Linked DNA regions of Homo sapiens: regions 2 and 3 are each linked to region 1. Evidence: fine-mapped expression QTL. A gene starts in region 1. Each other region holds a variant in brackets. All regions are shown on one strand. Distances are between the middles of the regions. Region 1 holds the start of DMXL1 (Dmx like 1). Region 2 has its middle 99 kb from the start of MIR5706. Region 3 overlaps DMXL1 (Dmx like 1).

Evidence for each region.
Region 2: its variant is fine-mapped to the expression of DMXL1 in whole blood (INTERVAL, PIP above 0.99). The same link has a PIP of 0.9 or more in blood mononuclear cells.
Region 3: its variant is fine-mapped to the expression of DMXL1 in tibial nerve (GTEx, PIP above 0.99). The same link has a PIP of 0.9 or more in aorta.

What each region holds. Positions count from the first base shown.
Region 1 is chr5:119,067,359-119,074,511 of GRCh38, forward strand. It overlaps DMXL1 (Dmx like 1), which reads left to right and starts at 3,729. Exons shown (of 44, transcript NM_001290321.3): 1 at 3,729-4,298. The coding sequence starts at 4,212. It overlaps DMXL1-DT (DMXL1 divergent transcript), which reads right to left and starts at 3,532. Exons shown (of 3, transcript NR_134250.1): 1 at 3,448-3,532. It overlaps LOC124901209 (small nucleolar RNA U13), which reads right to left and starts at 2,042; the gene lies at 1,939-2,042. RefSeq lists silencers at 3,496-3,575, 3,886-4,165.
Region 2 is chr5:119,250,132-119,257,284 of GRCh38, forward strand. No RefSeq gene overlaps it. Among named protein-coding and RNA genes, the nearest start is that of MIR5706, 99 kb to the left of the region's middle. RefSeq lists an enhancer at 5,621-6,177. The variant A/G (reference allele first, on the strand shown) is at 3,659.
Region 3 is chr5:119,095,665-119,102,817 of GRCh38, forward strand. It overlaps DMXL1 (Dmx like 1), which reads left to right. Exons shown (of 44, transcript NM_001290321.3): 2 at 2,315-2,440; 3 at 6,271-6,342. Among named protein-coding and RNA genes, the nearest start is that of DMXL1, 28 kb to the left of the region's middle. The variant G/A (reference allele first, on the strand shown) is at 3,761.

The DNA.
Region 1 (7,153 bases):
CCGCCTGGGCCTCCCAAAGTGCTGGGATTACAGATGTGAGCCACTGCCCCCGGCCAAGAATAGGGATTTAGATTGGTCTATTTGGGGTGGGGGAGGAGGGTAATGACAAGGATTTCAAGAAATCAAGAGTGGGCAAGAGGCATGATTATTTCCCAATCTGAGCTAGCTTCCTATATGCTCCTTTTCTTTCCAAGAATCTCAGAATTTGGCCTGCTTGGGTTTCTTTAAACTATCACCACCCACTGACTCTTATAAAATTCCCCCTCTTCTTGAGATCGCGCCACTGCTCTCCAGCCTGGGTGACAGAGCAAGACTCTGTCCCAAAAAAAAAAAAAAAAATTCCCCCTCCTCTTGAAGACTAGCATTGAAAACCAAAACTTATCTTTGGCCTGCCAATCTCAGAAACCACATGGCACGTCGGTTATGTAAGACATCTTGCTGCTAGTAATAATGCAAACTATACAATAAAAGACTTCCTTTATTTTATTTTTAATTTTTTATTTGGTTTTTAAGAGACGTGATCTATTTTACCTAGACTGGACTTGAACTCCTGGACTCTCAACGATTCTCCTGCCTTAGCCTCTTGGGTAACTGGGACTACTGGCGCTGCATACAGCAAGACTTTTTTTTTTTTTTTTTTGTAGAGCCATCCTTTCTCTCTTATTTTTTTTTAGAAACTAAAAAAGAAAACCACCAAAGCACACAGTCAGTGAGCATTCAAAGGATGGAAGGATATAATTCAATTATAGTTGAGGGGATAATTAGACTCAATAATTCTCCGGGATTTTTTTTTTTTTTTTAAGACAAGGTCTATCGCCCAGGTTAGAGTACAGTGGCGTGATCATAGTTCACTGCAACCTGGAACTCCTGAGTTCAGGGATCTTCCTGCCTCAGCCTCCCAAAGCGCTGGGATTGCAGGTGTTAACCACTGCACCAGGCCCTTCTCCTGGATTTCTTGGATTAGCAGGTTGATTTGTGAGCCTTTGGTAGAAGGAATGTGGAGACTTTGAGCAAGTGGAATGGAGGCATGCAGTGCTGCCTTCTAGACCCGCAGTAAGGAAACAGGAACAGGAGGATGAGGGGCAAACAACCTAAAATTTACTTTCACCTCCTCCACCTTCTTATTAATCTTCCCATAAGGTCAGAGTCATGTCAAAGTTGCACAATAAATCAGGAATAGATTTAGGATTCGACAGAACCTTAGTAGGGGAATTTTATGACATTAGGAGATGATCTGTGAGGGGCAGCATCTTGGAGGCAAAGGGAATTTTGTTTGTTTGTTGTTTTTTGTTTTGTTTTGTTTTGTTTTTGGGATGGAGTCTTGCTCTGTCGCCCAGGCTGGAGTGCAGTGGCGCAAGCTCTGCTCACTGCAAGCTCCGCCTCCCGGGTTCACGCCATTCTCCTGCCTCAGCCTCCTAAATAGCTGGGACTATAGGTGCCCGCCACCACGCCTGGCTAATTTTTTTTTCTGTATTTTCTGTAGAGACGGGGTTTCACTGTGTTAGCCAGGACGGTCTTGATCTCCTGACCTCATGATCTGCCCGCCTTGGCCTCCCAAAGTGCTGGGATTACAGGCGTGAGCCACCGCGCCCCGCATCTTGTTGCTCAGTTTTATTCTAATACGTGGAATGCTCTTCAAAACTAACAAATGGGCAAAATAGAATGAGTAAACATGTTAAATTATGAACCAGCCACAGAATTTATGTGGGAGCCACACAAGTACAACAATCCTGGTTCTGGGTCTAAAATATAAAATTAAAAAGCACTTGAAGTATAATTTGAAATAATAAAAGACAAACTGTAGGTATGTTAGACCTCAAAAAATAAGTATATTTTAAAAAAAGACAAATTAAGTTTTGTCCCTTATCTTATGAAAAGCCTGGAATACATAATGAAATTCATTTTTTAAATAAGTTTCGGGTTTTTTTTTTTTCCCCACATCAGATGGGTAATGTGCAGATGATGGCGCAACAAGGTTTGAGGGAGGGACGTCTCACACAAGTGTGAACACACAATCATCCCACTTATGAACTAAAAAGTATCTCGTAAGTAGCTTTTTATTGTCAGACAAAGTAAATGTACATTGCAAAAAATGTAGTAAAAATAAAAGGAAATAAATTTACTAGTACTCGTCCCACCCTAGTATTATTATAGTTTGAAGTCTTCATACTACAACAAAAGGGGGAGTTTCTTTATTTTCTTTTCTCTCTTTTTTTTTTTTTTTTTTGACTTTCTCTCTTGTTGCCCAAGCTGGAGTGCAATGACACGATCTTGGCTCACTGCAACCTCCGTCTCCCAGGTTCAAGCGATTCTCTCGCCTCAGCTTCCCAGTAGCTGGGATTACAGGCGCGTGCCACCATGCCAGGCTAATTTTTTAATTTTTAGTAGAAACTGGGTTTCACAATGTTAGCCAGGCTGGTCTCGAACTCCCAACCTCAGGTGATCCCCCCGCCCCCACCTCGACTTACCAAAGTGCTGGGATTACAGGCGTGAGCCATCGTGCCTGGCCTATTGGAGAGTTTTGAGGGTTGTTTGTTTTGAGACGGGATCTCACTCTGTCACCCAGGCTGGAGTGCAACGGGGGTCTTGGCTCACTACAACCTCTGCCTCCCGGGTTCAAGTGATTCTCCTGCCTCAACCTCCCGAGTAGCTGGGATTACAGGTGGGAGCCACCACGCCCGGCTAATTTTTGTATTTTTAGTAGAGAAGGGGGTTTCACTATGTTGGCCAGGCTGGTCTCGAACTCCTGACCTCGTGATTCACCCTCCTCGGCCTCCCAAAGTTCTGGAATAATAGGCGTGAGTCACCGTGCCTGGCCTATTTGGAGAGTTTCTATACACATTCATGCAACATTTACAGAACACCCTGAATGGGTGGGACTGGTGCGGTGCTAGACATTAAGGACAGACTTGTGTCCTGTTCCTCTGTATTCCAAAGAGGCTTACGGTATACAGGGGGAGACATATAAACAGATGTTTGTCAATTATAATACAAAACTTGTGTCAAAATACAATGAGAGTTGAATCTCAGTTTGTAGCTGTGACTCTGATCATTCTGGAATTCCTAGGTTCTTTTCCAAAACAAACGCTCAATGCAGGGCTGGTGTGTTGTTATTACCAGCACTATTTCAAATCACGTGTTAAGATAACTTAGGCTAAGAAAATACCACTTTCCTACTTGTCAAGTGTTCGAGCCTTTCAAAAACCATCCCGTTTAGGGACTTGGAAACACGCGCAAGGCTGGAGAAACCATTAAGCTGCTAACGTAGACGTTTCAAGGGTCACATTTACTCAAGAGACACTCAGGTCGCCCGGGGGAGCGGTGCATATTGGGACTTGTAGTCCTACCAGAACCGAGGAAACTGCAACTCCCTTTAGGATGCACTTCTCCCCTTTAAATTTTCTGGCCCAACAGTTAGATGACGCCCTAACCTAAAGCACAACTTACCACATCTCACTCATTCTGGGTTCATCAGGCTTCTGCCAGGCTTATCAGGTTCAAGCTCAAACGCACGGCGTTCTCCTGTAGAAGCCTCAAAGAGATTGGCTTATTCTCGGTGGTGGGCGGAGCCCTAGGTGGACCGGGGGTCGGGATTGGCCAGTTTCTGACTAGAAGAGGCGTTTTTATGTTCACTTGCTGATACGCACGCTGTGGTAAAAAAGTGAATTCTTTACCACAGTAGCAGCTGCCCCGAGCGAAGTCTCGCGATATTTCGGCCGCAGGGATCCAGAGGCGCGTAGTGAGTGGCGGAGGACTGTGGGGGTGGCGGGCACCGGAGCCGGGAAGGGACAGGTCAGGCGGGGAGTGCGAGCGCGTACTGCTTGCGCCACTCGGGCTGGGTCAGGAGCGGCTGCCCGAGGTCCAGAGGAAGTGTGTGGACAGCGCGGCCTTCCTGGCCGGTGAGTCGGCCCCGGGTCGTGGCCGGTGAGGGGACCCTGAGCTTCACCTGGGCTAGCGCGGGGAGTGACAGGTGCGCGAAGGAGCGCGGCGCTCCGCCCTCTCGCCGACCCGCCCCCTCCGGGCCTCGCCCTCCGGGGCTCGGGATGAGTCGCGGGCCCCAGCTGAGCGGCTCCGGCTCCAGGCGCCTGTCGCTGCTTCTGCCGTCGCCACCGAAGAGCGGCCGCCGCCCCTGAGGGAAGGAGGGAGGGAAGCAGCCGCTGACCCGTGGCATGAGCTGGATGCGGTGTCCGTTGCAGGACTAGGGCGCCGACATGAACCTGCACCAGGTGCTGACCGGGGCTGTGAACCCTGGCGACCACTGCTTCTCCGTGGGCAGCATTGGCGACCAGCGCTTCACGGTGAGTGAGGGAGGCCCTCGCGTCGCCCGTGGCCCGGCCTTTGCCCGTCATTCTGGGCCGAGCTTGGCCCAGAACGACGGGCAGAGGCGCGAGGTCTTGTCTCCCCAGGGGGGTCCTTACCACCCAGAACCCAGCAGACCTGGCCCTTGAGAACTAAGGAAGCAAAACCATGTCGGTCAGTGAGGTACTGTATGGAGCCTGAACTCAAGTTAGAATATTTTGTAGGATTTTTAAAGTTTTTGGTCTGTCTGCCTTGGGCCAGGGTGCTTTGCCAAAGTCGTTTGTTCAAAAATCTTTGTTGAGTAACGAGTTGGGGGCTTTTTTATACCATTCTATAGGTTCAAATTGTCAAATTTAGGAATAGTGGAGATTGGTTTCATTTTGTATTCTAAGTTAAGGTCAAGTATCTTTGTAGTTAAAAAGTGGGTGTCTCAAAACAATTACCAATTGTTTGCCATCAACAACTAGCCTTGAGAACAGTGTTTTTCATTTATTTTCTTTTCTAATTCCCTGAGAAATAACTTCGGAAAGAAAAAAAAGCCTTTTCATTTTTAAAAATATTTCTTGGATATTTTACAATAACCTGGTAATCCCAGGTTAAGGTTGCTTAACTTGCTTTTCATTGGTCACATATTGACAAGAAGAGGGCACCAAATTTCGGGCTACTTGTCAGTATAGTGGCATTTTTCTACCTTAACTATAGGTTTTTTTTTAATAACAATTTCAAAATATAAGTCAGTAATTGCACATGATACTTTTATCTACATAAATTTATAATGCTAATGATTTTTGCTACAATTTGTGTAGATACCTCTTTAGTTGTGATTAAAAGTAAAACTTGTCACTGCCTGGGAATACTAAGTGCTGTAGGCTTTTTTCTTTAAAAAAAATAAAAGTAAAACTTAATTTTGTATAAGTGACACAAAGTAAACAACGTAACCAATGCCCCAGGTTTAGGAGTGTTAAATTTCTAATCTTTTTCTCTGCTTTTAATTTTTCTGTGGTCTTTGTTGGTCAGAATAAATAATACTCAGCATTTAAAATGGTGGAGGCATTTAATGCCTGAATTGTACTTTTAGAATTGTGCCAAGAAGCATTTTGTTTTCAAATAGAGACTGTACCTCCCCTTTAGATTGACTCATACACATCTTAATTATCGGGATTCCAATTCTAAATGTTTGCCCAGCCTGAATACTTGGGAAAAGAGTGAGCTCTGAGGGTCCCAGTGAGCAACTATAGTTTCCTTACACCTGGGCATTGCTCTCTGCTCTTGCTGCTTGAGAGGAAAGTAAACATCATCCTTAGAAGGTTTTCCTAGTGGGAAATTATAGGATAATATTGTTGCATTCTCTGTCATTTCCTAAATTTATATGAGTGCTTTCTCCAGTGTAAATTCTAAGAACTTTTGCTTTTTAAAAACTTTTGAAATGAGGTCTCCCTCTGTCACCTAGGCTGGAGTGCAGTGGCGGGATCACAGCTCACTGCAGCCTCGACCTCCCCGGCACAAGCCGTCCTTCCACCTTAGGCTCCTGAGGAGCTAGGACTACAGATTCTAATCACCACGGCTGGCTAAGTTTTCTATTTTTTGTAGAGAGGGGTCTCCTTATGTTGCCCAGGCTGGTCTTGACTTCCTGGGCTCAAGTGATCCTCCCACTTCAGCCTCCCAAAATGCTAGGATTAGAGGCGTGAGCCACCATGCCCAGCCCTAAGAATTTTTTCTAAGAAGGCATTCACAATCTATGTAAGCAGTGGTGTGAACTTCAAAGCATATGCAGTATGATGGCCTATTTATATACCTGGATGCATTCCTCTATAAAACCTTGGTGAATGTCTGTGTATTGTTTTTAAGGAGAGATCAGTTAATGTGCCGAGGAGGATTAGATAGATGGTCATCCTGTACCATCATGTAGCTTGTTGCTCAGTTCTGCTGAATTTTAAAGTTCATTTCCATTGAGTAGGATTTAATCTCCCACCAAGCCTACTGCAGATTTCTTCCAGGTCTCTGGAAGCATTCAGTAAATAAACTAAAAATAAATTTTTAAGTATAAAGAGAGTTCAGCTCTCTTTAGTTTTGATGGAATTTTAAGGATTTAACAGTCATGGTTTTCCTTTGCAGCCTGTTCATCCTTGACTCTTTAAGTTGCTTACGCTCATTATCCTGGACACTTATATACACCTTAAATTTTTCTCTCTTGAAATCGCCCTTTTTTCTTCTCTCATGTTAAAAGGCAGAATCTATTGTTTACTTCTTGAGTTGTTTTGTGTTGTTTTTTTTTTTTGAGACGGAGTTTCGCTGTCGTTGCCCAGGCTGGAGTGCAATGGCGCGATCTTAGCTCACTGCAACTTCCGCCTCCTGTGTTCAAGAGATTCTCCTGCCTCAGCCTCCTGAGAAGCTGGGATTACAGGCATGTGCCACCATGCCCTGCTAATTTTGTATTTTTTAGTAGAGGTGGGGTTTCACCATGTTGGTCAGGCTGGTCTGGAGCTCCTGACCTCAGGTGATCCACCAGTCTTGGCCTCCCAAAGTGCTGGGATTACAGGCGGGAGCCACTGCACCCAGCCTTGAGTGTTGTTTTTAACCTTTTTTGATTTTGACTTTTCTTTGATAGGAAAATAGTAAACATTAATGGTAGATGGTATGTGAAGACTAAAATATCCCTCAGTTGCATTTTACTTGAAGTGGAGCATGACATCTTCCTCTTGCAGTTCCCCTTGAAAAATTCTTTTATTCCTTTTGGTACTTTGTGTTTTCTTTTAGGACAGTCCTGCTTTTGTAATTCCTCCCTTTGCATGTTTGCAGATAACTTACGTGTTCTTGGTTTGAAAGATTACAAGATGTGAGATCTTGTTTTACT
Region 2 (7,153 bases), 180 kb after region 1:
AACCTTCTGAGAAATTATAAAAATAAAAGCTTCCATGCATAAAAATGTAAGGACACAGATGTTTATTGAAACATATTCTAGAGGCCAGATGTGTTGGCTCACACCTGTAATCTCAGCACTTTAGGAGGCTGAAGCAAGCACAGGTCACTTGAGGTCAGGAGTTTGTGGCCAGCCTGGCCAACATGGTGAAACCCATCTCTACTAAAAATACAAAAATTAGTGGAGTATGGGGTTGTGTGCCTGTAGTCCCAGCTACTCAGGAGGCTGAGGCAGGAGAACCACTTGAACCCAGGAGGTGGAGGTTGCAGTGAGCCGAGATCATGCCACTGCACTCCAGCCTGGGTGACAGAGCAAAAGTCTGTCTCAAAAAATAAAAATGAAAAAAAAAAAAAAAAAAAAACTGGAAATCTAAATGTTAATTAGCAAGTAAATGGTTGAATAAATTATGGTACATACATGTAATATTATAGAATATTCTCTCACCACTAAAAAGAATGTTAGATATGTATATGTTGGCCTGAGAAGAGGCTGATGAGGAAAAAAAATTACAGAGCAAAAGATACAATATCCTAATTGTTTAGACTTTTTAAAATATATATGAACAAAGAAATGCATGTGGAAAAAATACACAAAACTTTTAGCATTGGGAAAAGGAAGAAGGCTGTAATATTTTCCCAAACTCCTTTAAACCTCACTCAGTAAAGTAATACCAAAGATAGTTTTGTTGAATGTGTGTACGTGGGAAAAACAGCTTTATTTTTAAACCAAGTAGTACTTCATGACTTTGGGAGCTGCTCTGTTGAATAAAGTGATCTGGTGTCAGGAACACTCCTCTTTGAATTGTTGAGATATTTTTGGTGAAATTTATTTAAGCTGAATGTTAAAATGTTACCCTTTGGAGCAGGAGTCCCCAGCCCATGGGTGACAACTGGTACCGGGTTGCACAGCAGGAGGTGAGTGTTGGGCAAAGCTTCATGTGTATTTATAGCTGCTCCCCATTGCTTGCATTACCACCTGAGCTCCGCCTCCTGTCAGATCAGTGGAGGCATTCGATTCTCATAGGAGCAGGAACCCTACTGTGAACTGCGCATGCAAGGGATCTAGGTTGTGTGCTCATTATGAGAGTGATGCCTGATGATCTGTCACTGTCTCCCATCACCCCCAGATGGGACCATCCAGTTGTAGGAAAACAAGCTCAAGACTCCCACTGATTTTATGTCATGGTGAGTTGTATAATTATTTCATCATATATTACAATGTAATAATAAACTGCACAATACGTGTAATGCGCTTGAATCATCCTGAAACCATCTGGCTCCATGGAATAACTGTCTTCCCACGAAACCAGTCCCTGGTGCCAAAAGGGTTGGGGATTGCTGCATTGGAGTACCTGGAAAAAGTTGATCATAGATTATTTGAATGTGCCTGTTAGTATTCTAGAAATGTGTGTAGATTTCAGTCCAGTTATTTTCAAAGCTGAATCTGTTTTTGAGCTTTTCAAGATGTTTTTTCTTTCTGCTTGGCTGTCATTGCACATATATGGTCCATTACTCAAGGAACTAACACTGAGAGTGTCACATTGTTTCACAGGGGTCCTTGGAACAAAAACACTTTTAAGTTCTTCCACTGCAAATACAGATGACTAATAGAAACAATTGGTGTGACAACACATTTCACTCCACAGTGGAAAAAATGCTTTATTCATGGACAATCAATTTTCTATGCAATGTACAGGTATGACCTGTGTAACAGAACTCAGCCAGTATGGTGTATCCCTGGACATACGTTAAATAAGTTTTAAAAATCCTTTGGAATCTACTCTTAGCATCATTTCTGAAATTGCAGCATATTTGTTTTCTGAAGCCATACCTTTTTTTTTTTTTTTTCAGTTTATTCTGAACACAAGCAAAGATAATTCCTTAAAATAGGATCTGGTTGTCTGTATTTGGGTTGTTTCATTCTGTGTTTTGCAGAAAATGCATCAGATTACTATGGCCATTCAGACATGAAGATAACTAAGCAAGCTACAATACTTGCAGTGTATGTTAAGATCTCATAGGGCTTTTTCCTAATGAGAAGTTTTATGACGGGGGGGAATGCCCCATCTGGAGTTTACATTAAAGAAAACTTCATGTGTAGATGAAGTTACATGGATGTAGCCCTACAAATGAGGCATATCTTCTGATAATGCAGTTCCACAAGAAACAGCAAATGAAGCGAGGGCTAGACTTCACCCCAACACATCCCCCTAATAAGTTATATAAGCATTCACCATGGCCCTGTACCTCATAGTCAGAAGCCCAAGATTCTTATACAGTAATGACAGTCATCTAAATTTCAACTGTTTCACAAATCCCTTTAAAGAACAAAAAGAACAAATCACTCAGATACCATACCTAAGCATATTAGATGGCAGAGAAGACAGCAACCTTTAAATTACATATAATTTAGGAAATAAATATCTGAGTCTCCCAGACCCCACACTGTAGCAGAAAATGATTGGAAAAGGGGTACATAGAAGAGTGCAGGATTCTACTGGTACTGACACAATATGAACTGGAGTTTAGAAGGAGAGGGTCTCATTCTGAATGGTGAAATAGAACAAATAACTGGCTACTGAAAAATAGAGTTGGAAATTGTATGTGATTAGGTGTGAATATTTTGGGAAATTAGTTCTGAAATAGGCCATCTTCAGAGGAACTGATGTCCTTTGGAGGCTTATTGGTGAAGGGAGAGAAGGAAGTAAATGAAGGTAAGTGTCGTTTAACAAGATATCAAAGAATCCAAAAATATCCTCCATAAAGGTGTGTGATTTTTTTAAAGGAAATCGTGATTTATTTTACAAATAAAGCACTGTGCTCCTGAATGAAAAAAACAGCCCCCCTACACTTGTCCATAAGATTGTTTACTATTGTAACGTGAATAGTTTATACCACATGTGAAAAAAAAATCCACACAAATTTACTCTCAAAACGTTTCTTTGAACATACAAAAACACGCTAGGCCAGGTGCAGTGGCCAGTTCCTGTAATCCCAGCACTGGAAGGCCCAGGCAAGAGGATTGCTTGAGCCTAAGAGTTCAAGACCAGCCTGGGCAACATAGGAAGACCCCCATCTCTACAAATAATTTAAAAATTAGCCGGGCATGGTAGCACATTCTTGTGGTCCCAGCTACTTGAGGCAGGAGGATTGTCTGAGCTGGGGAGGTTGAGGCTGCAGTGAGTAGTGATCATACCACTACTTCAGTCTGGGTCCAAAGTGAGACCATGTCTCAAAAAAAGCAGGGGAGGAGGGGTGGCTCATGTCTGTAATCCCAGCACTTTGAGAGGTCAAAGTGGGAGGATTGCTTGAGTCCAGGAGTTCAAGACCAGTCTGGGAAACATGGTGAAACCCCTTCTACAAAAGAAAAAAAAAATAGAAAAATTAGTCATGCATGGTGTCACGTTCCTGTAGTCCCAGCTACTCAGGAGGCTGAGATGAAAGGATTACCTGAGCCTGAGGAGACCAAGGCTGCAGTGAGCCATGATTGTGCCACTGCACTCCAGCCTGGGTGATAGAGTGAGACAGTCTCAAACATAAAAATATAAACCACCCTCAATAATTTCATGAAACAGAGGAAAGCAGTAATTCAAAATAGTCTAACTTACTAATTGATCGAC[A/G]GGGTCTCACTCTTGCCCAGGCTGCATTTACAGGACCTGCATTTACTCAGGAATGAAAACAGCAAAATTATCTCATAAATCAAGGCTAAATTAGAGATGGCCCAAGGGAGAAGAGATATGACTGAAAGCACACATGTAACAGAGAGAATAGAAATTAAATGAGCCAAAAAATGAAGTAAAAAATTGTTGTAGAGAAAATAATAGATATAGAACACAGAAAAATATGCAATGTTTATGGGAAGGCAGAACTCTGGGTGCAGAGCCAGGAGTTGCAAGCCCAGAGAGCAGAGCTTTGAATCACAGGGTTATTCTCAGGCCTTGAAGCTGAATGGAATTTTCCCTGCTGTTCTTTGAAATTGCTTGGGACAATGTCAGCACCCCATCAAAAATTACCAGACAGGAACAGAAGCTGAAAAATGTGACTCATACGAGAGAAATATCAGTCAATAGAAACAGAAAACATGGGCCGGGTGCAGTGGCTCACGCCTGTAATCCCAGCACTTTGGGAGGCCAAGGCGGGTGGATCACAAGGTCAGGAGATCGAGACCATCCTGGCTAACACGGTGAAACCCCGTCTCTACTAAAAAATACAAAAAAATTAGCTGGGCACAGTGGCAGGCGCCTGTAGTCCCAGCTACTCGGGAGGCTGAGGCAGGAGAATGGCAGGAACCTGGGAGGCAGAGTTTGCAGTGAGCAGAGATCACGCCACTGCACTCCAGCCTGGGAGACAGAGCAAGACTCCGTCTCAAAAAAAAAAAAAAAAAAAAGCAGAAAACATGGCAGACTAGAAGTTCTGGCACTTGTCTCTCTCACAATGACAACCAAAACGATGAAAACTACAATTTAATCTGGGCATGGTGGCTCATGTCTGTAATCCCACTACTTTGGGAAGATGAAGTGAAAGGATCCCTTGAAGCCAGGAGTTTGAGACCAGCCTAGGCAACATAGCAAGACTCCATCTCTACAAAAAATTACTTAAAAATTAGCTGGATGTGGGTGGTGCATTCCTGTAGTCCTAGCTACTAGGGAGGCTGAGATAGGAGTATTGCCCAGGAGTTTGAGGTGTATCACAGTGAGCTATGATTGCACCACTGTACTCCAGCCTGGACAACAGTGAGATCCTGTCTCAAAAGAAAACACAACATTTTAAAAACAACAAACAAAAATAAAACGGAGAGTTCCAAAGTGTCTCAGAGGAGTAACATAAATCTGGATGGGAACAGAAACAGATGGCCACCTAGAAAACAGAAGAAAACATTGGGCCTCTACCACCCCATTCCCCAACTAGGATTAGCTGAAAACCAGGAGGAACTTCTCCTTTCAATAAGGAGGTAGGAATGAGGATGGTAGCAACTCCCATCAATACTTTGGACACCAAAAAACAAAACAAAACAAAACAAAAACGGATAGGAGGCAGGACTAAATCACAGCTCCCACTCATACAGAGCATTGGGTGGAGACACATTGTGAACTCTTGCTCCAAGAACTACTGCAGGAATATACCAGGAAAGATGAGCGAATCCACAGACCCTTTGAAGGAAGTGGATTGCTCCTGCAGGACCCAGGAGATAGCCCAAATACTGTGAGTGCCCAAACTGTGAAAGTGGGAAAGAGGGATCATCTGCCCCTGAACACATACCCTCACTGGGGAACCTGAAGGTTCAGGTCATAGGAGAAGGATTTGACTTACCAGGAGCTGAGACAATTTAGAAAGCCAAGCAAATTACATGGGTAGAGGAAGCAGTGGGAAAAGCCCTGTGGGCTCTCTGGGTCCCCACGAAAGCCATTTCTGACTTTTCTCTCAGGGATCCTTGGGGAGGTACGCCAGAGGAACAGGGAAAAGACCACAGGGAGAAAGAAACCTCCAGCTGAACTTTGTAACAATTCCAACTAAACACAAAGTCTCCTGGCCAGAACTCTGGGGATGGTGTGAATCCAGTGTGCAGACCGATAGGCGGGGAGGAGTGAAAGCCCTGCTTGCTTCCTCAGCCAGGAGGCTGGTAGCCTGGGGCAAGTTCTCAGCCCTGCTTGCCCACTGCCTGGAAACCAACTAGGTGCTGTTGGTTGGGGGGCATGGTGAGAGTGAGATCAGCCTTTTCAATTACATGGGAGCTGGGTGAGGCCTGTAACTGCCAGCTTTCCCACACTTCCCTGACAACCTGCATGACACAGCAGAGACAGCCATAATCCTCCTGGGAACATAACTCCATTGACCTGGGAGCCACACCCCCATCCCCAACAGCCACCACAGCAAGCCCCGCCCAAGGAGAGTCTGAACTCAGACACGCCTAACCCTGCCCTTACCTGATGGTCCTTCCCTACCCAACCTGGTAGCTAAAGACAAAGGTCATATTCTCTTGGGAGTTCCAGGGCCCTGCCCACTGGCTGATCCTCCTCCATACTACCACAGCTGATGCTCTTTTGATAGATAGCACCACCTCCTGGTAAGAGGTCAACCAGCAGAAAACTAGTGCATTAAACAACTACAACTAAAGACACTCAGAGTCCATTTCACTCATCTGCCACCTCTACAAAAGCAGGTACTGGTATCCATGGCTGACAGACCTGAAGATGATTCACATCACAGGACTCTGTGCAGACACCCCCCAGTAGCAGCCCAGAGCCTGGCAGCCCTGCTGAGTGGCTAGATCCAGAAGAGAAATAACAATTACTACAATTTGGCTCTCAGGAAGCCACATCCCTAGGAAAAGGGGGAGAGTACTACATCAAGGGAGCACCTCATGGGACAAAAGAACCTGAATGGCAGCCTTGAGCCCCAGATTTTCCCTCTGACATAGCCTACCCAAATGAGAAGGAAACAGAAAAACAATTGTAATGTGACAAATTAAGTTTCGTCAACACCCCCCAAAAATCACACTAGCTCACCAGCAATGGATCCAAACCAAGACGAAATCCCTGAATTGCCAGAAAAAGAATTCAGAAGGTCAATTATTAAGCTAATCAAGGAGTCACCAGAGAAATGTGAAGTCCAACTTAAGGAAATAAAAAAAATGACACAAGATATGAGGGGAAAAATCAGTATGTATAATTGTGTCAATTAAAAACAATAAAAGCATAAAAGAAAAAAGACTCAGAAATGACACATAATGGAATTAATAGAAAAGGGCTGTAAAACAGCTATTGTAAGTATGCACAAGATCTGAGGAAAAACATTAATGTAATGAAAGCAGATGGTAGAACTATGTTGAACTTTTAGAGATGAAAAATACAATATCTGAAGTAATTCACTGGATGGGCTTAATTCTAAAACACTTTTGAAGAGAAGATCAGAGAATTTAAAGACATGGCAAGTGAAGCTATTCAAGAGAAAGCAAACATAATAAAAAAAAATTAGAAAAAATACAAGAGAGCAAGGAACACTGATTAATTAATGATGCTATAATACCAAGTGGTATGATACATCTACTTAGAGTCCCAGGAGAATGAAAATAAGAGGAAGAAAAAATACTTTAAAAAATAGCTTTAAAATTTTCC
Region 3 (7,153 bases), 28 kb after region 1:
GTGACAATCAGTATTCTCAAAATTTAATATCAAGGAGAAAAATTAGTTTCTAAATTATTTGAAAGACAACTTCTCTTAAAATTAGCCTTTGGAATTTATTCTTGCTAATGGTCTTATGACAAGCCTTATGATCCCATCATGGATATTTATATAGGAGAGGAGATCATCATGTGATTTTTTTGTTTGTTTGAGCCAGTTCTTTTCACTTTGTGAAACTAGTGGAATCATAATTGATTATTCTTTCTAATTTTTAGGTAAAATTCCAGGCAAGCATGTTAACTAGGGAAGCCCCTGTTGGTACCATGGAAATAGCAGGAGACCAAAAATCAAGAGATCAGGTTCTGAAGCCCCACTCTGCCACTAAGATGTTATCAACTTATTTGGGCCTTGATTTTCTTTTCCATATAGCACATTCATTTGTATGTTCTCTCAAGTCCCATTTTTAATATTTTTTGATAGAGTATACAGAATAATTTTGGTTTTGGTAGGAATTAAGGTGTATATGAAGTATAATTTTTTTTTTTTTTTTGAGATGGAGTTTTGCTCTTGTTGCCTAGGCTGGAGTGCAGTGGCGCGATCTCAGCTTGCTGCAATCTCCACCTCCCGGGTTCAAGCGATTCTCCTGCCTCAGCCTCCCAAGTAGCTGAGATTACAGGCATGCACGACCATGCCCGGCTAATTTTGTATTTTTAGTAGAGACGGGGTTTCTGCATGTAGGTCAGGCTGGTCTTGAACTCCAGACCTCAGGTGATCCGCCTGCCTCAGCCTGCCAAAGTGCTGGGATTACAGGCATGAGCCACCATGCCCAGCCTGAAGTATAATTTTTAAATATATGTGCGTGTGCAAAAATGAGGAGCAAGTAGAGAGTTGATAAAAACTTTATGAACTCAGGTTGGAAAACAGTTTGTGTTAGATGTCTTATTGTTGTAACGTGTGCCAGTCTATAATATGAATCCTAGGAGAACAACCATGTACCCTGTAATGGAAAAAACTCCCGTGATCAAAGAAGGTGGTAGGGAAAAGGACACACAAAAGAAGAGTTCTAGTTGGGAGAGTTATGCTAACTGTTGTAAAATTGAAAAAGAGCTATGAAATGCTTGGCAACAAGTCTTGAGCTATGTATACTTTCTTTTGTTGTGATGACTGTTTTTGTGAAATTAAATGCTTCATTTATTCCACTTATAAATTATTAGCTGCATTCTAGGCCCTTGTGTTAGAATTGAGGACTAGAGTAGAGAACAAGATAAACTTGAATCCTTCCTTTTTGGAATTTAACTTTTAATAATAGATAGGGACAAAAGACATTTAAAAATTGTGATATATGCCGTGAAGAAAATAAACAGTAATGTGATAGAAAGTAATGGGAGAGATAGTGGTTGGGAATTGTAGCCTGAATGCTGGAAAGCAGCTAACTAGAAAAGACCAGGCAGATAAAAGGCAGATAAACACCTTGAGATGTAAAAAGGAACAGAAACAAGAGCCAGCTGAGAGAAGGAAAGAATAGCCTGAGATGGGTTTATAGAAGGACCACCATTTAGGATATTGACCATGGTAAGGTGTTGAGATTTTATTCCAAGTGCAGTGGAAAACTGTTGAGGGGTTTAAGCAGGGAAAATAACTTGGTGCAGTAAACATTCTTCAAATATCACTCTTTGTGGAAATGCATTAGAGGGAGGCAAGAATGGAAGTTTGCTATTAGTAGAATAGGAGAGAGATGATCATGGTTCAGTTTAGACAAGGGTGGTAGCATTCACTGGAGATGAAAAAAGTGAGCCGGGCGCAGTGGCTCACGCCTGTAATCCCAGCACTTTGGGAGGCCGAGACGGGTGGATCACGAGGTCAGGAGATCAAGACCATCCTGGCTAACACGGTGAAACCCCATCTCTACTAAAAATACAAAAAACTAGCCGGGCGTGGTGGTGGGCACCTGTAGTCTCAGCTACTCAGGAAATTGAGGCAGGAGAATGGCGTGAACCTGGGAGGCGGAACTTGGAGTGAGCCGAGATTGCGCCACTGCACTCCAGCCTGGGCGACAGAGTGAGACTCCATCTCAAAAGAAAAAATAAAAAAGTGGACAGAGTTCAGAGTTGATGCATATTTTGCAGAAAGGACTGACAGAATTTGCTAATAGGCTGTATATGGGGAGGTAAGGGAAATAGTGCCAAATGTAGATTTTTTTTTTAAGAAAACACCTAAAATTGGTCTTTTAAAACATTTATTCTCCCTGCCTTAAAACATGATAGTTAATACTAGTATTCTACATGGTAAATGTTTCCTTGACACTTTTATCATTTTTATTTATTTATTTTTTTAGGCTTATGCATCTGGATGTGACATTGTAATACTGGGAAGCGATTTTGAAAGATTACAGATAATCCCAGGAGCTAAACATGGAAATATTCAAGTGGGATGTGTAGACTGTTCAATGCAACAAGGCAAGGTTTGTAATCTTCTTCTAATATACAAATTTGTTTGGAATATGGTTTTTGTCAGGATAATCTCTGAAGTGTGTATTTCCTATTGAATTAGAGACTTGGCTTTGTTTCAAAGATAGTGTAGCTAGAAGAATTTTTGGCTGTCTAAGATGCATTCTATAGAGTGCCAGAAATTCTCTTCTTATATAATTTTAAATTATAGCATCATCTTCTCTGAGAAAGAAATACAATACTTACTGATATAGAATGAGTCTAAAGCTTACGTATTTAAAAGGTGATTGGACTGGGGGAAAGGAGTAACAATGAATCTTCAATATTTACAAATAAACTAAAGGAAATGATTTAGAATATTTTTTTTTTTTTGTCTGTGAACAGGTAGTTATCTCCTTGTAACTTCTATGTAACAAGGGCTGTGTAACTTTTTGTGGAAATGAAAAACTCTTTGAGAGTTTATAATATTCTAAGCCCATAAGAAAAGTGAAAAACTTTATCTGGACTTCTATTTGCATATGAAAAGTAGAAAGGTAACCTTGAAAGTAAAATAGCAACAACATAAACAAAAGTAACAAAGTATAAAATTCTTCTAGATCAGGTTAAATACAGTTCCTGTAGTACCAGAATGAGAAAGTCATACTACTAGGCAAGGCAGCATAATATATAGCTTAAAATAACTCCATATAGGCATAGGTGGTAAGGCCTATATATAGTTGTAGCTAGACTGGACTGAACTTCGCAAATACACTCATATGATTCCACTAGAACATTTTGTGTAAGGAATCAAAATGGTCATATTAAGAGTCCATGGACCCAATCATTTGTTTTTAAATCTAATCTTCATTTGAGGTAAACTTTCTAGGATTAAAAGTTGCCATCTGGGACTTAAAGATATTAATTATAAAACGAGTTTCTGTTTTCTGAATCTTTACATATTTGTTGGACTACTGTTCTTTTTGTTACATGGTATTCCTTCCCTTTAATATAGTTACAGGTGTCCTCTATCTTTTGTTGAGGCCTCTTATGACTTCTCGCTGTACAACAAAAATGATCTTTATTATGGAATGCTGGAAATCTTTGGGTTTTTTTTTTGTTTTTTGTTTGTTTTTGTTTGTTTGTTTTGTTTTTTGTTTTTCAGATGGAGTCTCGCTTTGTTGCCCAGGCTGGAGTGCAGTGGTGCAATCTCAGCTCACTGCAGCCTCTGGCTTCCGGGTTCAAGCAATTCTCCTGCCTCAGCCTCCCAAATAGCTGGAATTACAGGTGCTCGCCATCATACCCGGCTAATTTTTGTATTTTTAGTAGAAACGGGGTTTCATCATGTTGGTAAGTCT[G/A]GTTTCAATCTCCTGACCTAGCGATTTGCCCTCCTTGGCCTCCCAAAGTGCTGGGATTACGTGAGCCACTGCGCCCAGCCTATCCTTGAGATTTTTATTTTCATTCTCTTCATGTTTGTTTGATCTTCTAGCTCTTTTGTTCTGTAATCTTTCTTAACTGTATAAAAACTTGCTTAATACCATCTGGACTCACATGGAGCTGGTTAATGTTAAAAATATAATTTAATACTTTCCAATATGAGCTATCTTTTTGTGATAGACTATATGACAGTCCAGGTTAGAATGAAGAAATCATGGCCATGTGTGGTGGCTCATGCCTGTAATCCCAGAGCTTTAGGAGGGTCAAGGTGGGCAAATCGCTTGAGACCAGAAGTTTGAGACCAGCTTGGGGCAACCCTGTCTCTACAAAAATAAAAATAATAAGTAAATAGCCGGACATGGTAGTATGCTCCTGTAGTCCTAGCTACCCGGGAAGCTGAGGCGGGAGAATCACTTGAGCCCAGGAGTTCCAGGCTGCAGTCAGCTCTGGTGGCACCACTGCACTGCAGCCTGGGTGACAAAGCAAGACCCCATCTCTACAAAGAAAAACAAAAAGAGGAATTAAGAAGTCATTTGGTTTTATAATCATTTAATGAAGAAATATTTTCTTCATTTACAGATATCAGTATTATCATAGTGGTTCCTTAAAGTATCAGGAAGAAAATTGGCAGGTTCTGGTACCTGGGGACTTCTGACTGTTTACATTTAAGAAGGAAATGTTCTTTGGGAAGCCGAGGCAGGTGGATCATGAGGTCAGGAGTTCAAGACCATTCTGGCCAAAATAGAGAAACCCCGTCTCTACTACAAAATAAAAAAAAAAACATTAGCTGGGCGTGGTGGCGGGCGTCTGTAATCCCAGCTACTCAGGAGGCTGAGGCAGGAGAATCGCTTGAACCCGGGAGGCAGAGGTTGCAGTGAGCTGAGATCGTGCCACTGCATTTCAACCTGGGTAACAGTGTGAGACTCCGTCTCATAAAAAAAAAAAAAAAGAAGGAAATGTCATAGGCACCTGTATTTTTATTATTACTGTTTTTTTCTTTGTACTGTACTACCACCTAATTCATTTTTCTGAGAAAATTAATCCTCATTTATCCTTTTATTCATCAGCTTCAAAGTATTCTTAGCCCATTACCTTGGAAAAGTTCAAATTGTTCACCTTGGTGTGAGGCCTTTTACAACCTGGCTCAGATCTGCCTTTTTAGTCTCAGGTACACTATTGTGTTATAAGGAGCACTCTCTTCTTGGTGGGATGGTGGTCATTCACCTCTAAACATACATTGCCTCTTTTAATCTTTACATCTGTTTTCTTTTTTTTTTTTTTTTTTTTTTTTTTTGAGACGGAGTCTCACTTTGTCGCCCAGGCTGGAGTGCAGTGGCGTGAACTCGGCTCACTGCAAGCTCCGCCTCCCGGGTTCACGCCATTCTCCTGCCTCAGCCTCCCGAGTAGCTGGGACTACAGGCGCCTGCCATCGCCCGGCTAATTTTTTTTTGTATTTTTTAGTAAAGACGGGGTTTCACCGTGTTAGCCAGGATGGACTCGATCTCCTGACCTCATGATCCTCCCGCCTCGGCCTCCCAAAGTGCTGGGATTACAGGCGTGAGCCACCGCGGCCGGCCTTACACCTGTTTTCATACTATGCCCTATTTATAAAGTTGAATACTCACTGCTTTTTGAAATCCCACCCATAATTAAAGGCCCAAACTAAACACTTCCTCCAGATCAATGCAGCACAAGTGATATCTATATCCTAAGAATTCAGAAGCCTTAAAATATCCATTCACAGTTTTTTCTCCATGTTTGTTGTGTCCTCATTTCTTACCTTCTCTTTACTACATCATATGTTTTTTTTTCTATCCCTGATTCATTCATTTAATCTCTCTCTCTGTTTGATTTCCAATATTTTGATGTTCTTTATATGAGACTCACTCAAGTTATAGTAGTAGTTACCTTATAAAACAGAGCCAGGAAAGGTTATGATCCATCAATTTAAAGAGTAAATTCAAAGGATAAAATAGAATATGTTTTAAAATGTACTCAGGGAGTTTCCAGAGGAATAGACCTAAGTTATATTTTTGAAAAGTTAATGTACACTGACAGAATTGTCAATTTAGAGGATGGATGACGACAATTAACATTTACTGTGCATATTGTATGTCACTTATTATATGTTAGGTGTTTTACAAATGTTATTTCAACCCTCAATGCTGTTAGGAAGGTAGTGTTGTACATATTATGAACACTGTAATGGAAACTAACGTTTGGAGAGATTAAGTTGCTAGTTAACGTAGTAAGTTGCAGTTCTAGGATTCTAATGCAGATGTGATAGTCTTCAAAACTGACATTCTTAAGCATCAGTGAATGAAATTGTGTGTATTGGCATATTTAAAGTTATAGTATTCATTTCTTTGCTTTTTTTGATTCATAAGTAAGTTAACATATCCCTAATAAATTCTTTTTTTCTTTTTAAAAGATTGCAGCGTCTTATGGAAATGTTATCTCCATTTTTGAACCAGTTAACCTACCAAAACAAAAGAAAAATTTGGTCAGTAATTTATGATTTCTTCTTTTAGGAATTGAAATGTTTTAAGTATTGAAAGAGTGTAAAATCAGAGTGATCATTGAGTAAATCGGTATTACTTATATACTGTAATTGAACCTACATGTTAAATTCCATTTTGATGTTAAAAATATATTTAAATTTTTCATTGGAATAGAACTAAAATAAATTGTGCCAATGAATTGTTGAAATGCTTTATTATTTTATTTCTGACATTTTTAATTTTATAATATTTCAAGAGTCAGTAACCTAAAGTTTGGCACTACTTTATTGCTAGTATCAAATACCGTTGTCCAGCCATATGTGGTACTCTTTCCTTTGTTTTATAATCTACCTTTATACAGGTTTTCTGCCTCTTCAGGGCTTAACTTTCTTGCATTATTTAGATCATGTAATACAGTCGTTAACAGGTCAATGAATGTTTTTCTTTATAAGCAAGCTGTACTCAGAAATAGTTCTGAAAACTGGTTACCCAATAATTTATAAATATTCGAATCATGTTAGCAGATTTTATAGGTTCTTTAATGCTTGTGCCTGTAATCCTCTCTATTTGGGAGGCTGAGGCAGGAGGATTGCATAAGGCCAGGAGTTTGAAACCAGCCTGGGCAAGATTTTAAAAAAAGTTTAGCCAGGCATGGTGGCACATGCCTATAGTCTCACCTGCTCAGGAGGCTGAGATGGGAGGATCGTTTGAGCCCAAAAATTTGAGGTTGTGGTGAGCAATGATGGCACCACTGCATTCCAGCCAGGGTGACACAGTGAGACCCTGTCTCTAAAAATAAAAATAAAAGCAAAC